2 separate regions of the Homo sapiens genome follow, and region 2 is linked to region 1. The links come from fine-mapping of genetic effects on gene expression. Tissue or cell type: sun-exposed skin. Region 1 holds a variant in brackets; the other region holds the start of a gene. All regions are shown on one strand. Distances are from middle to middle.

What was found. PIP is the estimated chance that this variant, and not a neighbour inherited with it, causes the effect.
Region 2: it holds the start of KRT39, and the variant in region 1 is fine-mapped to the expression of KRT39 in sun-exposed skin (GTEx, PIP 0.98).

What each region holds. Positions count from the first base shown.
Region 1 is chr17:40,925,080-40,933,267 of GRCh38, forward strand. KRT23 (keratin 23) reads right to left here. Exons shown (of 9, transcript NM_015515.5): 3 at 6,294-6,376; 4 at 4,861-5,017; 5 at 3,367-3,528; 6 at 3,159-3,281; 7 at 275-495. It overlaps LOC107985072 (a long non-coding RNA gene), which reads left to right and starts at 3,524. Exons shown (of 4, transcript XR_001752886.2): 1 at 3,524-3,603. The variant T/G (reference allele first, on the strand shown) is at 3,348.
Region 2 is chr17:40,962,599-40,970,786 of GRCh38, forward strand. KRT39 (keratin 39) reads right to left here and starts at 4,350. Exons shown (of 7, transcript NM_213656.4): 1 at 3,791-4,350; 2 at 1,848-1,930; 3 at 1,029-1,185. The coding sequence starts at 4,258. The region is part of intron 1 of LOC107985072 (a long non-coding RNA gene); the gene reads left to right.

The DNA of each region.
Region 1 (8,188 bases):
CTGGGAAACACAGTGGCCAAATCCTTTTGAATTGTTTCCTTCTAGAGACTTTAACTCTTCTGACTGCAAATCTTAGTGTCCTGTGAGTATTAGTTGATTAATTATACTTGCTGCTTAGTGAAATACAGCCAGCTATAGGTATCTTCTGGAGTAGCTCAACACAACTTTTCTCTTGCTAGAGTGACTCTTGCTAACAGAACCCAAAGATGCACACATATACCCACAGGAGCTGGAGGTCCCTCGCATGCTCCTCTCGTGCCAGCCTTTGCCTTACCCTTCACTCTCTCCCTCCAGGAGCCGTCGGTACGTGGTGATTTCCTTCTCCAGGTGGGTTTTGATGCCCAGCAGCACTTGGTATTCATTGTTCTGCCGCTCCAGTTCATGGCGTAGCTGCGTCAGTTCCTCCTCATAGTGGGAGATGATCTCTTGCATGTCCTGGAGCTTGCAGGAGTACCGAGACTGGGTCTCGGATAACATGTTTTCCAAAGCAGATTTCTGAAAGAGGAAATGATCTTCTGTTAATTAACTGATGGCTTGATTGAGTCAATAACAGGTGATTGTTGAGTACTTAGCAGATGTCGACCAGTTGGCTAGGTGTCTTGGTAGCTGCTGAGGACACCAAGATGAGAAGTAGGCTGACTTACAGGTTTGGGACTTGGGCAGTCAGGAGTTGAGCAGTGTTAGGACTTTTGAAGTCCATTGCCTTGCTCTGAACTGTTGTTTAACTCCTTTCATTTTATCTTTGACCTGATTGAAAACTCCCAAAGAGCGACAGCAACTGGGACTGCTATCTCTTTGTATCTTCGGAGAAGGGTCTCAATTAGGGATGCCAGATAAAATAGAGAACATCTAGTTAAATTTGAATTTCAGATGAGTAATGAGTAATTTTTTAGTGTAACTATGTCCAAAATATTGCTCCAGTATTGCATGGGACATGCAAAAAAAATTGCTTTTTATTTGAAATTCCAACTAAACTGAGTATTCTATATTTTAATTTGGTAAATCTGGCAACCCTAGTCTCAAGCAATGCTTTTTGATTATGACGATGGTAAAAAAAAAAAATGTCATTTTTTGAGGAAATTCTAACAGCTGCCAAATGAAGTTTCTGGGCTAGAATATGGAGGATTGAGTTCAAGTCCCAGTTCTGTTTGCATGTAACACCTGCTTTTCTGAAGCGCATAATTTTAACCTTAAAGAGAATCTCCTAACTGTGCTGGATACTCTCCCTTTATCGTGGCTGCTAATTTTCAGGGGGCCGTTCATGCTGCCTGGCGGTTAAAGCACATTTCCCTGGTCAGCCAGTCTCCTACTCTCCCAGGAGGTTATTTTGTTCCCTCTCCTCTGTCCTTGCCATCCTTCCTCGGAGTCCATGGCCTCGCTTCCTAATTTTGTTGATGAAATGAAAGCAATCGGGAGAGACCGCCCACTGCTCCCTACATTGCTCCCAGGCACATACTTGAATCTGCATCTGGGTGCTGGCTTCCCTCTGTTCTTTTGTGTGAGCTGTCTGTGCTCCAGTCATCTCGGCAGTTGCCCGCCTTCTTGCGTTATCAATATTCTCTCTGGATTATTCCCACCAGCTTTCAAATAGAATAATTTTTCCTACCTTAAAATATATCTTTCTTAAACCCATATCTACCTTCAGCTATCATCCAATTTCTCTGCTCTCCTTCAGCTACAGCAAAGCTCCTCAAAGAGTTGTCTATGCCTGCTGTTCCTCTTGAGACCCCTCCAAGGTAGCCTACAAAGCCCTACACTGTCTGGTTCTGTTGGGACTCCGCGGCCTCACCCTGTCTTCCTCCCTCTTCCCCTCCCTTCCCCTCCTCTTCTCTCCTTTCTTCTTCCCTTCATTCACTCACTGTAGCCACATGGACTTCCCTGCTGCTCCTCCAACTCATCAGACACACTTGTGCCTTGTCGCTTTTGCACTTGCTGTTCCCTCCTCTTGGAACACATCCCATCACCACATCAAGCACCTCCTTACCTCTTTGCTCACTGCCACTCTAACAGGAAAACCTTTCCTGACCACCTTGTTTAAGATAGCAGCTCTTCACCCTGGTGCATCTGCCCTCCTCCTCTGCTTCATCTCTGTAGCAATTTTCTCCATCTAACATATATTTTGATGATTTGCACATTTATTATCTGTCACTCCTACTAGAATATAAACTCCTTCATTAAAAAATCCTCAGTGCTAAGGATTGGTGTCAGATAGTAGAATGCATGAAAATGGGTATACATGCCTCGCCTGTTTCACAGGGCCATTGTGAAATACTGTATGTTAAAACGTTTTGAAAGTTGCACTATAATTATTTTTGTACTCATGATCTCTACGTGCACATTTGCAGTGTCTGTTCACCATCACGGATGCATAAAACACAGCAGTCATTTACCCAAGTGCACCTGCAACATAAATGAACAAATCATTGCCTCTCAAGACTGAGGGTAGAATCGCACTTGGCAATTATATGGATGAATGATTAGAAGACTCAATAGGGTATACTGGGAATCAAATGATAGACCTTCATAAATTTTGAATGCTTATGACCATGCTAAGCATTTTTCTAAACTGTGAAGATGATAGAAATGACTTGGACACAAGAACTTAGAGTTTTCTGGGTGATAAGACATATACATAAATGAATAGGGCAGTGCTTTGGAGTTAGCCAGGCCTGGATCTGCCACCTACCATGTTGGCACTGGAATTTCTCTACATTGGGGTTTGAGGGGGGTAGCCTGGTTGTAAGTGGAGAGGGCACTGATAGAAATTATGGGGGTCTAGAATCCCCCTTCCTCCAAATAAATCATATGGTTTCATCACCAGTTACTTACTAGCTGTGTGACCTTGGCCAATTTATTTTACTGTTGGAGTTTTGGTTTCCTCATCTCTAAAATGGGGACACTAAGACCTATCTGGGAAGGTTACTGTAAGGATTAATGACATTTAATATCATGAACTACTTAGCACAATGCCTGGCACCATCGGGACACTCAATACATGGTAGCCCTTTATTATGGTTCTCATCATAAACAATTTGGATGGAAAGTGGAAAGTGAGAGTTGTCCCAAGGGAGTTGAGGGTCAGGGCCTGGGAGAGAGGTCTCAGAAGGCTTCGTGAAGGAGGTGGTGTGGGATTCACGGTTTTCCTAGCCTTGACTCACCGTGCTGTACTGTGTCTGCAGGTCAATCTCCAGGGCCTGGAATGTGCGCTTCAGTTCGTGGATGTCACCTTGTCTGCTCTGCACAGTGGCTGGACTGGCTGCCTCCTGGGACATGGCTGCAGACTGTGGGACCAAGCAAGGCAAAGGCGTCAGCATTGGGACCTCATGGAAATGCAACCTTTGGGAAGT[T/G]TGTGCATCTTTCTTTTACCTGTTCTTTATACCAAGTGTCCAAGTCTCGATGCTTCTTCTTTATTATAAGCTCATATTCTTGTCTCATATCCTCCAGGACCTTAATCAGATCTTCCCTGGGACCTGTATCCACCTTCACATTGACATTGAAGTCACTTGGCACATGATGCTTCTCCATTTCCTATTTAATAACAGAGAAAGGAAATGAACCGGCTTTGACAATCAGAAGGCTGGATTGCCATGTTGATTGGCAGTGGTAAATAGATCTTTTAAACATTCCGATTATGTGGTTGCTCCCACTGTCACTGGTTTGGTTTCTCAAATATTACTTACTTGTTGGTGATAAAACATTGTATACTTTTTTCTCTAATAATTTTATAAAATAAAGAATATCTTTGAGACCAACCTGACCAGCATGGAGAAACCCTGTCTCTACTAAAAATACAAAAAATTAACTGGGTGTGGTTGTACACACCTTTAATCCCAGCTACTTGGGAGGCTGAGGCAGGAGAATCGCTTGAACCTGCGAGGTGGAGGCTGCAGTGAGCCGAGATTGCGCCACTGCACTCCAGCCTGGGTGACAGAGTGAGACCCTGTCTCCAAAAAAAAAAAAAAAAAAAAAAAGAATATCATAAGGCAGGTAATCAAATAGCCTCCATGATTACTGACTTGATCCGTGGTTGAAAATATTTCAGAAAGAATTATGCTTCCATAGTGTGCAAAGTCCTGTTCAGCAGATGTGGATTGGTGAAGTGACAACATAGTTAAGCAGCTGAACCTTACAGGCTATAGGCCAAAGCTTTTGGGAAGCAGTTCAAGAGGCAAACAGCAGAAAGAAGGTGTAGAGGCTTTCAAAATCTCATCAATGCCTTGTGACACTGTAGGGCTGACGCCCATAGGATTTCATGAAAACCAAGCAGCCACAGGAAAGGTTTAATTAACAATCATTGTCTAACCAGCTATTCAGAAACTGAGCTCTTTGATGTTGAGAAGCAATTTTGTTTTCCTAAAATGGGAACTGTTTTTCTATCATTTTATCAGAGTCTTGAGGACTTGTGATGGATGGTAACTCTAAAAGTCAGTTAAATGCTTCTGGAAATTAGGATTCTTTATTTTTGCCCCACATCACACTTATCTTGGTTGGTAGCAGACTCTCTTCATTATATTGTCCCCTAACTTGCTGAACATTGGGCCAGTGATGGAAGTCCAGTCTCACGCATTGATTCTTATAGTAACATTAACAAGCACATCTAGGTAAACATTGTGTATTAACAAAACTGTTGACCAATTCATCATTAATTATGATTGCATTTTGGTTGTTGTATTTGACATGTGACTAGCTAACCTTGAAATTAGAAACATTAGATATTTGTATGTTTTTCTAAAGACTATTTAGGGTGAAGGACAAGGGGATTGGCATCCAGGTGGTGGTTTCTTCTGTAGCTGTCGAATCAGCCTGAGATGTGCAGGCTAAGAGCTGTGCTTATTAGCAGGTGTTCCTGGGGAGTTGTACCTGCTCATGGTGCTTCTTCATGAGAATGAGCTCTTTCCTCATTCCTTCCACCTCCTGTTCTAGGTCTGTTGTGACAATGGTCAGGTTGTCTAAGGTCCTTCGGAGGCCCTCGACTTCAATTTCCAAGTCTTTCTTAAAGGAGTGTTCATTTTCATACCTTTGGTGAGAAGGAAGAGAAGAGTGCACTCATTGTTGGAAGGCCATGGTTTTTGAAAGGATTCATTTTCATTTAGAGGTGAATCTTTTACTTTTTAGGTTTAAAGAGAGCAAATGAATACATATAGGATGTCTTTTTTATGCCAGTTTCATGCTACACTTCTCCATGATGGTGACTCAATGTCAACTTTTAAATTGAGTAGGGAGAATAGGATAATAAACAGTCATATACCCATTATCTATATTTAGCAACCATGAATGTTTTGCCATATTTGCTTCATCTATTTCATTGCTGAAGTATTTTAAAGCAGATTATAGATGTGATGACATTTTAAGACTAAATACTTCAGGATGCATCTTTTAAGAAAAATATATTTTAAAATAAACAGGCCGGGCACGGTGGCTCACACCTGTAATCCCAGTACTTTGGGAGGCTGAGGCGGGCGGATCACGAGGCCAAGAGATTGAGACCATCCTGGCCAACATGGTGAAACCCTGTTGCTACTAAAAATGCAAAAATTAGCTGGGCATGGTGGTGTGCACCTATAGTCCCAGCTACTTGGGAGGCTGAGGCAGGAGAATCGCTTGAACCTGGAAGGCAGAGGTTGCAGTGAGCCGAGATCACGCCACTACACTACAGCCTGGCAACAGAGCAAGACTCCGTCTCAAAAATAAACAAATAAATAAATAAATAAATAAATAAATAAAATAAACATAACACTACACCTAAACATTAATAACAACCCTTTAATATCATCTAATTCTTGATTCATATTCAAACTTCCCCATACTATAATGTGCTTTATATCTGATTTGTTTAAACTAAGGTTCATTCAAGTAACACACAGTGCATTTGCCGTTGCTATGCCTTTTCATTATAAGATTTTAGATGCGGGTAATGGCAAGATGAGTTTTCCTTTTTTTTTTTTTTTTTGAGATGGAGTCTCACTCTGTTGCCAGGCTGGAGTGTTAGTGGCGTGATCTTGGCTCACTGCAACCTCCACCTCCTGGGTTCAAGTGATTCTCCTGCCTCAGCCTCCCGAGTAGCTGGGACTACAGGCGTGTGCCACCATGCCCAGCTAATTTTTGTATTTTTAGTAGAGATGGGGTTTCACCATGTTGGCCAGGATGGTCTCGATCTCTTGACCTCGTGATCCGCCCGCCTTGGCCTCCCAAAGTGCTGGGATTACAGGTGTGAGCCACCGCGCCCCGCCGAGTTTTCCTTTTGTAAAGCAAACAAACAAAAACCCGAACAACCCTGTGAAGAAGGAACTTACTTGAGGTTGAAGTCATCCACTGCCATCCTGGCATTGTCAATGAGAAGAATAATCTGAGCATTGGTCATCTTACCATCCACTATCTGTAAAACATGCACAAAAGCACAAAAGGTTATCTCACTTGGACACACCCACACATGACCGCTGCATGTCTGTCCTCTAGCTTCCTGAATATTTGACTTGTTAGTACAGACAACTTCTTGTTCTGGCAGTGGAACAATGAATAACCGAATCAGTAAATGCTTAGTGAGCACATACTAGGTGCAAAGCAGAATGATTTTAAAATAAGAATATGATCTGCAGTCAGTGTTACTGCCTTTTTTCTTTTTATGTTGAGTTTTGACAGGCTTGGATTGATGCAACTGCTGAAAGAATGATATAGGAAGGGGAAGGACAGTAATTGTTCAAAATGCCCTCTAACTTTTTAGGTTATGGACATGTCATAGCATTTTGCTTAATTAAGCTCATCCACAGCTGAAGATGTTAAAAGGACTTTAGGTTCTGATCCTTTTCTTATTGTATTAGGTTGGTGAAAAAGTGATTTTTGCCATTACTTTTAATTAGTTCAGCCCTCCAAAAATACAAAAATTATTATTTCAGGTGAACATAATTCTTACTTGTGATAGCAATCATGTTTCTAATCAGTGTTACTGAGCAACGCTAACACTAATATTCAATGTATTTTGTAATAGTCATCACAGAACACATTTTTTTTTTGCCCGAAGTGACTGTAACTTGAAGGTGTGTTTATGTCATTGCAACTTATTCTGTGATGAGAATGTGCTCATTGTAGCTATTAAAATATTAACTGAAATAATTCCTTACCATCTAAGGAAAATGCTTAAGAAGCTTCAGTAGTGGTAAAGCCTCCAGTTAAAGACTTTCACTAGATGTTCGTATAATTTTTTTTTTACTTTGAAAAGAAAAATAGTATTGAAAGCACTTACTCGAGCAAGTGTGTATACATTTATGATTTGTAAACACTTGTAGGTATGTTATAGTCAGAGAAATAGCACACATTTGATGTATGTCACTGTCTTTAGGGTAGAAGATGTCTCGTTGTCAAAAGTGTAATAATGCTTTTACGCCAAGTGTTGTGCTGGACTAGAAACTTAGAGCTTTTCTTTGGTTCTGGCTCTGTTCTTGACCATCCATGTGGATGCATCAGGCTGCATCACTCTACTCTCCAGGCCTCAGTTTCATCCATTGTCAAATAAGGAGTCTGTACTAGAGACAGAGGACCTTAGAGGTCTTAGCTCTAAGTTTCTGTAATTTAGTTGGAGTCAGAGAATCCTGGGTAATTCCCATTATATTTACATAGCTCATTCCTTTATTTAGAAAGCATTTTCTTAGGACAAAGCTATACTTCAGTACAAAGGCACCTTTTAAAAGTCTGGTCCTATTTAAAGCTCCACTGATCCCATGGAATTTGGTATCATGAATGCACAATAGCAGGATTTAGAGATGGCATGAATGCTGGGTCTGGAACTCAAAGAGCAGGGCCTGGGATCCTGCTCCGCGCTTACTGGCTGGGTGAGATTGGCTGAGTGAGCTTGGCTGAGTCTCAGTTTATTCATCCATAAAATAGCAATAACAATAGTTACTTCATCAAAGAGTTATGAGAATTAGAAGAGAGTATGTCAAATAATGTCAAATAGCATATTATCGGCATATTATAGACAGTGAAAAATTGGTCGAAACTGAATTTGTTCAGAAAAAAGTAAATAATACACCTTTCTTTTTAAAAATCTAGCACTTTTATAGATTCAGTGACTACACTGTGAACATCCCCAGGTTCTATATGCTGAGATGCCTGCTCAGACTTTTGCTGTTCATGGTGGGACATAGCCAGGCTGGCTGCTCCTGCCTCATTCTTTTTCCTCTTGTGGGATTCC
Region 2 (8,188 bases), 38 kb after region 1:
AACAGATAACCCCTTTGTGTTCTTGTTTCACTCTAACTGCTACGATTTAGCTTAATTGTGTCTAAAATATAGCCCACAACAAAGGAATACATGATTTACAGGTGTTATTGAGATGCTATAAAATGATTTAAGACTCTTTCAGGTAGGACTGTGTGTTTAAATGTGTGCAAAATTAAAAAAAAATGAGTAGCAAGACCAGAGTTCCAAAAAATTTAGATCATTTCCAGGGCTGGATAATGGGTGAAACAGGATAAAGGTGGAATTGATCATGAGAGATTATAGTCTCTATGGTGCAAATACGGGATTGTGCCAATATTGACTTGCACCAATATTGACTTGTACCAATGGGAGGTGGCAGAAGCCTGTATAGGGATGCCTACAAACATGGGAAGACTGTAAGGACAGAAAAATTGGGTTCCTTCTTGTAGAAAAGCTGGAGGGGATGTTGGAGGCCTTTCTTCCCCTTATGGCTCCAGATATTGTGTTGGAGCCAGTGGATTTGAAATACTACCTTGAACCAGTGCTAGTAGCAGTAGGTATTTTCAGGGCTAAACCAGAGTAGTACGTAGCAGTGGTTTGGCTCTGTGTCCCCACCCAAATCTCATCTCGAATTGTAATTCCCATAATTCCCATGTGTCAAGGGAGGGACCTAGTGGGAGGAGATTGGATCATGGGGGTGGTGTCCCCCATGCTGTTCTTAGGATAGTGAGTGAGTTCTCACAAGATCTGATAGTTTTATAAAGGGCTCTTCCCCCTTTGGTCTCTCTCTGTCTCCTGCTGCCAAGTGAGATGTGCCTGCTTCCCCTTAAGCCATGATTGTAAGTTTCCTGAGGCCTCCCCAGCCATGTGGAACTGTGACTCAGTTACACTTCTGTCCTTTATAAATTACCTACTCTCAGTTATTTCTTTATAGCAGTGTGAGAACGAACTAATACAAGCGGGCACACCCTTTGTCAGGTGCAACTCAAAGGAACTGATGCTACTTTTAGGGACTTAGCTTGTGATTACTCTATTGGTCTTTGTCTCACCTCTTTGTGGTTGTTCTTGAGGCAAAGGAGCTCCTCTTTCAGAGACTGGACTTGTGCCTCTAGGTCGGCCTTGCCCAGGGTCAGCACATTCAGGATCTGCTTGAGGCCATTGGCATCTGACTCTACCAGCTGGCGTAGAGACACCTCAGCTTCGTATCTTTAAAAACCAGATGGGAAAAGAGAGACATCTGAAAGGAGATGATGCAAACCAAGCCAAGCAGAACTCTCATCTGCATTTTGCTCTGGGCACCTCACTTAGTGTATTTCTATTAGAAGTTTTATTCTCTTTGGAGGTGAAACCATTTGATATAGATCATAACTTAATTATTATTCCCAAATTAGTTTGCTAGGGGGATCTACATTGCTGTTCTTTGAGATATGGGAATTTATTGTCCTTCCTCTGCCCCTAGTGGCAATGCAATGTAAGTGAAGAAAGCACTGGATTAGGGCTCAGAAAACATGTGTCCAAGTTTCGGTTTTGACTTGTGCTAGTTATGCTTACCTTTGGGTGAGTAACTTAGCCTCACTAAGCCACAGATTTCTCACCTTAAAGAGAGTAACAATATATTAGTCCTATCTATTTTACTGAACTATTGTGTAGGTAATCAAATGGGTTCACAAGTTAGAAACTATAGGTACTGTATACATGTGAGCAGTTATTAATCTTAATCATTCATTGAATTTGAAAGTCTTTTCTGGGCTTGTGCCAACATCATCTGGGGCAAGAGGGTTAGTAGACATGGGGACAATTTTGTTGAGGGCATCTCGGTCAGACTCAGGGTGAGCTCTGTCATTGATGACGGTGTTGGGTGGGCTTACTTGGCTCTCAAGTCATCTGCAGTCAGTTTGGTGTTGTCAATTTGCGAGACCAGTCTGGAATTCTCGGCCTTGGTACACAAGATCTAGAATTAAGAGATTGTACACACAAATGAAGCAAACACCAAGATTTCCTTCTTTAAGAACCAAGGGGTTTGTGTGTGTGTCAAGTAACAGGGGAAGGCTAAGTAGACTTTTTATTAATCTTCATAGCTATGCTCACAAAGCTTGGAAAACTTCAGAAAGTCAGATTTCCTGTTATTTTCCTAAAAGATCAGCAAAAAGTACTTAACTAGAAACTTTTAAGTATTTTTTTTGTTGTTGTTGTTAAAAAATCCAGGCTGAGAGCAGTGGCTCACCCATGTAATATCAGCACTTGGGAGGCTGAGGCGGGCGGATCACGAGGTCAAGAGATCAAGACCATCCTGGCCAACATGGTGAAACCCTGTCTCTACTAAAAAATACAAAAATTGGCCGGGCGCAGTGGCTCACGCCTGTAATCCCAGCACTTTGGGAGGCCGAGGCGGGTAGATCACGAGGTCAGGAGATCAAGACCATCCTGGCTAACACGGTGAAACCCCGTCTCTACTAAAAATATAAAAAAAAAAAAAATTAGCTGGGCGTGGTGGCGGGCGCCTGTAGTCCCAGCTACTTGGGAGGCTGAGGCAGGAGAATGGCATGAACCCAGGAAGCGGAGCTAGCAGTGAGCCGAGATCGCGCCACTGCACTGCAGCCTGGGAGACAGAGCGAGACTCCGTCTCAAAAAAAAAAAAAAATACAAAAATTATCTGGGTGTGGTGGTGCGTGCCTGTAGACCCAGCTACTAGAGAGGCAGAGGAGGGAGAATCGCTTGAACCTGGGAGCTGGAGGTTGCAGTGAGCAGAGATCGCGCCATTGCACTCCAGCCTGGTGACAGAGTGAGACTCCATCTCAATAAATACATAAATAAATAAATAAAAAATAAAATAAAATCCATCCTAAATTTATATAAATACCATGATCCACTAGAATGTCAACTCCATGAGGGCAGGGACTTTTTAAAGGTCACCAATATTTTCCCAGAATCTAGAACAATGTTTGGCCCAATGTTGTTGCTGCTCAGTAAACATTTGTTGAATGAATAAAACTGAATAAATCCAGATATGTAGTAGCAGAATACGTCTGTGCATAACAAACTTAGGTTTGGTGTAGAAACAAACCAAGCAATGTGGAGATGATAACATAAGCATAAAAGGAGAAAAAGGTGGTGATGGTTGAAAAATGGATAAAAACTAAATTGCTTAGAAACTCATTAAAGCAAAATTTATTTTCTCTGATCTCTGTTTCCCTATTTTTATTTAAAAAATGGCAACAACTTGCTGTTAACATCTTTTGGTCCTGAGTCATCTAGTTATAATGGTAGAGTGTATTTCTGGAGAAAGGAAACACCATGAGACTCTTCTTTTTGTTTCTGATTTTTAAAGACATAGTCTCACTTTTGTCTGGGCTGGAGTGCAGTGGCAGGATCTTGGCTCATGGCAGCCTCAACCTCTTGGGCTCAAGTGATCCTCCCACCTCAGCCTCCCAAGTAGCTGGGACCACAGGCATGTGCCACCACGCCCATCTAATTTTTTTTTGTGTGTGTATGTGTGTGTGTGTGTGTGTGTGTGTAAGGATGGAATTTCATCATGTTGCCCAGGATGGTCTAGAACTCCTGGGCTCAAGTGATCTGTCTGCCTCAGCCTCCCAAAGTGTTAGGATTACAGGTGTGCATCACTGCGCCTGACCAGAAATACTATCAGACTCTGAATGCTGCCTCAAGATGACAATTTCACTCAAGAAATTTTTCTATTCTTCAAAAAAATTTTCAGCATCAACTGAACAAAAAATATTAAAGTTTAGCAAATAACTGTTGCTTGGAAACCATTAATTCACAACACGATTAAACAGGTTCTTAGGAATCTTACCTTCTGCTGGAGCTCCTCAATGGTAGTGTAGTAAGACAGGTAATCAGGACATAGAACAGGGAGCTCTTTGTTACTTTCTTCCTGGATTTTAGATTCCAGTTCAGCATTCTCTCGTTCTAGCATTCGCACCTTTTGCAGGTAGTTAGCAAGGCGCTCGTTCAAGATTTGCATGGTCTCCTTCTCATTACTGTTGATGCCTTCACCATACCAGCTGCAGTCATCCAGAGAAAAACGGGCATTGAAGTTGTTCATTAGGTAGATGGGCTTGCGACAAAAGCGAGGAGTGGGTTGGCAGCCCTGGTCCCAGGGAATTCTGAGAACGTGGCCAGCTGGTTGACAGTTGTTGACTGTAAGGCCACCAGGATGGCAGCCGTTGTTAGAAGAGATGGTACTAACATTTGTAATCCTAGAGCAGTTTTGACATGGGGTTGAAGGAGAATTGGTTGTTGTACAGCCCTTGGTGTCCATAGTATGTGTCTGGCTTTAGTTTGTTCCAGGTCTGTGGTCACCAGGATGAAAAGCTCAAGCCACCTCCACAGAGTCTGAATTCCAAGGCTCTTGGTGTTTTCCTCTTTGAAGTGCTTATATAGCCTCTCTTCTACGTGGTGTCACACAGGTGGGATGTTTTCCTTTCTCAGGTTTATATCAAATCCTGTAGGAACATCTTATTAGTCTGCTTTTTACTTGCTTAAGAAGAGTTATTTGTCTCATAAACATGTGCATTTAGGCTGTTAGTAAGTTATTACCCATCATAACTACTACTTGTCTATTGGACCCAGAGCTTCAAATTATGTCTTCAAAAGGAACTGTCCTAACAGCATCCATTATTAAGCAGGTGTGAGTATACTAAGTTCATTACATTCTTGTTGACCTCTCCACTTGGCACTGAGCTTAACCAGGAATGAGTTCATCCTTCTTTTCCTTTCTTCTCTAGAAAAGGGAAACTATTAATGTTTAATAATTATTGGTAAACTTAGAAATCAGAAGTCAATATTTTAGTTTGTTCTGCCCAAATGGTTTCCCCATTTTCAGTGTCAGGACAATGTGAGTATGAATTAAAATGTTAGTCTTTTAAAAGTCTTGTTTTAAAGATAATTGCTAGATTTATGTTTTAGCTTTCCATAAAATGTAATAACATAAAATAAAATATAAATAAAATATGAAATAAAATAAAAGCCATGGGGAAAAGGTAGGGTTTGATTGCTAATAAGAAATTTCTTGGAAAAGAGACTAGCTCTCTTTTGGTTTTCCAAAGTCCACATTTTATAACATTTTTAGTGCTTGGTGTTTGCTTGTGGTATTACATTAGATAAAAATGTATCACAGTGTTGGTTTATACTGGATGTTTAAATAGGATTCATTGAAAGGGGTGTGTTTTCTTTCTGAGGAATACTTACTCAGCATTTTCTTCAGAAAGTTACTTGCTGCTAATCCTTTATGGAGGCTCTAGGGGAACATCATTTTCTTGCCTTTTCCAGCTTCTACAGGCTGTCCACATCCTCAGCTAGTGGCCCCTTTTCATCCTTTTTTTTTTTTCTTGAATTATGAGATTTTTTGTACTTTGAGTTCTGGGATACATGTGCAGAACGTGCAGGTTTGCTACATAGGTATACAAGTGCCATGGTGGTTTGCTGTACCCATCAACCTGTCATCTACATTAGGTATTTCTCCTAATGCTATCCCACCCCTAGCCCCTCACCCCCTCACAGTCCCCGGTGTGATGTTCCCCTCCCTGTGTCCATGTGTGCTCATTGTTCAACTCCCACTTATGAGTGAGAACATGCAGTGTTTGGTTTTCTGTTCCTGTGTGAGTTTGCTGAGAATGATGGTTTCCAGCTTTATTCATGTCCCTGCAAAGGACATGAACTAATCCTTTATTATGGCTGTATAGTATTCCATGGTGTATATGTGCCACATTTTCTTTATCCAGTCCATCATTGATGGGCATTTGGGTTGGTTCCATGTCTTTGCTATTGTGAATAGTGCTGCAATAAACATACATGTGCATGTGTCTTTATAGTAGAATGATTTATAATCCTTTGGGTATGTATCAAGTAATAGGATTGCTGGGTCAAACTGTATTTATGGTTCTTGATCCTTAAGAAATTGCCACACTGTCTTCTGCATTGGTTGAACTAATTTACACTCCCACCAACTGTGTAAAAGTGTTCCAATTTCTCTCCATCCTCTCCAGCATCTGTTGTTTCCTGACTTTTTAATGATTGTCATTCTAACTGGTGTGAGATGGTATCTCATTGTGGTTTGATTTGCATTTCTCTAGTGACCAGTGATGATGAGCTTTTTTCATATGTTTGTTGGCCACATAAATGTCTTCTTTTGAGAAGTGTCTTTCTATATCCTTAGCCCATTTTTTTGATGGGGTTGTTTGTTTTTTCTTGTAAATTTGTTTAAGTTCCTTGTAGATTCTGTATATTAGCCCTTTGTCAGATGGACAGATTGCAAAAATTTTCTCCCATTCTGTAGGAGGCTGAGGCAGAAGAATTACTTGAACCCAGGAGTTCAAGTTCAGGTGGGCAACACAGTGCGATTTCATTTTTAATAAAATAAAATAAAATACAAAATAAAAGCCATGGGGAAAAGGTAGACCGTTATATGTATTATATGTACTTTGGGGACAATTTTGTATTCCCTTTGGTGTGGGGGCAGGGAATGTTGAAACCATACTTCATCCTTTACAGTGGGACGAATTACAAGTAGATCAAAGATTGAGATATGAAAAATAAATAATAAATATGCCCAAAAGGATAATTATTTTATAAATTTGGAGTCAGAAGACTTTTCCAATGATGACTCAAAATTAAGAAGCCGTAAAAAACTGTTAGATTTGACTCCATAAAATAACAGTGTTTGAACTTGTGCTTGGGTGAAAAATACAACCTGTAAAACCAGAAGACAAGATGACAAACTGGGAAACAATATTACAATTACACTCTAGACAGTGACCAAAAGGAAAATACAAAAGGCACTTAAAATAAGAAAAAATGCTCAATGTCACTCATGAAAAGAGAAATGTAAATTTAAATTATACTGAGATATTTTAGTTTTCCACCTATCAAACTGAAAAAAATCAAAGTTTGATAACAGATACATTCACTGCCTATAGCACTCTCATTGCTTGTGGCAATGAAATGTAAATTCATGCAAGTTACTATAATGCTACTACAATTAAAACAGTGTGATATTGGCATAAGGGTTGGAAAGTAGATCAATGAGAAAGAATATAGAGTTTAGAAATAGACTCACATATATGTGGTCAATTGATTTCTGACAAAGATCCCAAAGCAAGTCAATGAGAAAAGGAAAGCTTTTTCAATACTGTTTTTTCAATACTGTTCAATACTTGTCGCTGAATCAAGTGGATACTTGTATAGCCAAAATGAATACATCTTGATCTCTACCTCACGCTACGTATAAAACTTAATTCAGGTTGGATTAAACACTTAATTGTGAAGATTTCAAGTCTAAAGTTTTTAGAAGAAAACTCAGAAGATTATATTCATAACCTTCTGCCATGAGAAGACTTCTAAGCTCATGGAGGACACTATAATAAATAGATTAGACTTCATCAAAATGAAAACCTTTTGTTGATCAGATAAATAGCTAAGAAAGTGAAAAGGCAAGCTACAGCCTGGGTTAAAATATTCTCTCTCTCTCTTCATACACCCACCCCCCAACGCACACATTAGAACACATACATACACAACGTCATATCTTTTGTAACAATGGGAATATATTCTGAGAAATTCACCTTTAGTGATTTTGTTGTTGTGTAAACATCACAGTGGACTTCATGAACCTGGATGGTATAGCCTATAACACACTTAGGCTATATGGTATAGTCTATTGCTCATAGGCTGTAAACCTGCACAGCATGTTACTGTACTGAATACAGTAGGCAACTGTAACACAATGGTAAGTATTTGTTATCTGGAAACACATTTAAACATAGAAAAGGTACAATAAAAATATGACATTATAGTTTTTTGGGACAGCTTTTGTATGTGTATGTTCCATCATTGTTGACTGAAATGTCATTATGTGGCACATGACTCTATAAATAAATATGTGTATAAAAATAAATAAACACATATTTATTTATACAGTAATATACTATCTCTCTCTCTCTCTCTCTCTCTCTCTGACAAAGGACCTCCCCCAAGGACCTAGCAATTTCATGGTTAGGTATATGTCCAAGAGAGATGAATGTATATATTTTATACACACAATAATATTTGCACAAGAATGCTTATAGCAGCTATATTCTTAATAGCACTAAAATAAAAATAACTGCTCATAAACAGAATAATGGACAACAAACTGTGACATGTTTATGTAATGGAGTAGTATGCAACAACAATAAAGAATGAACTGCCGGTA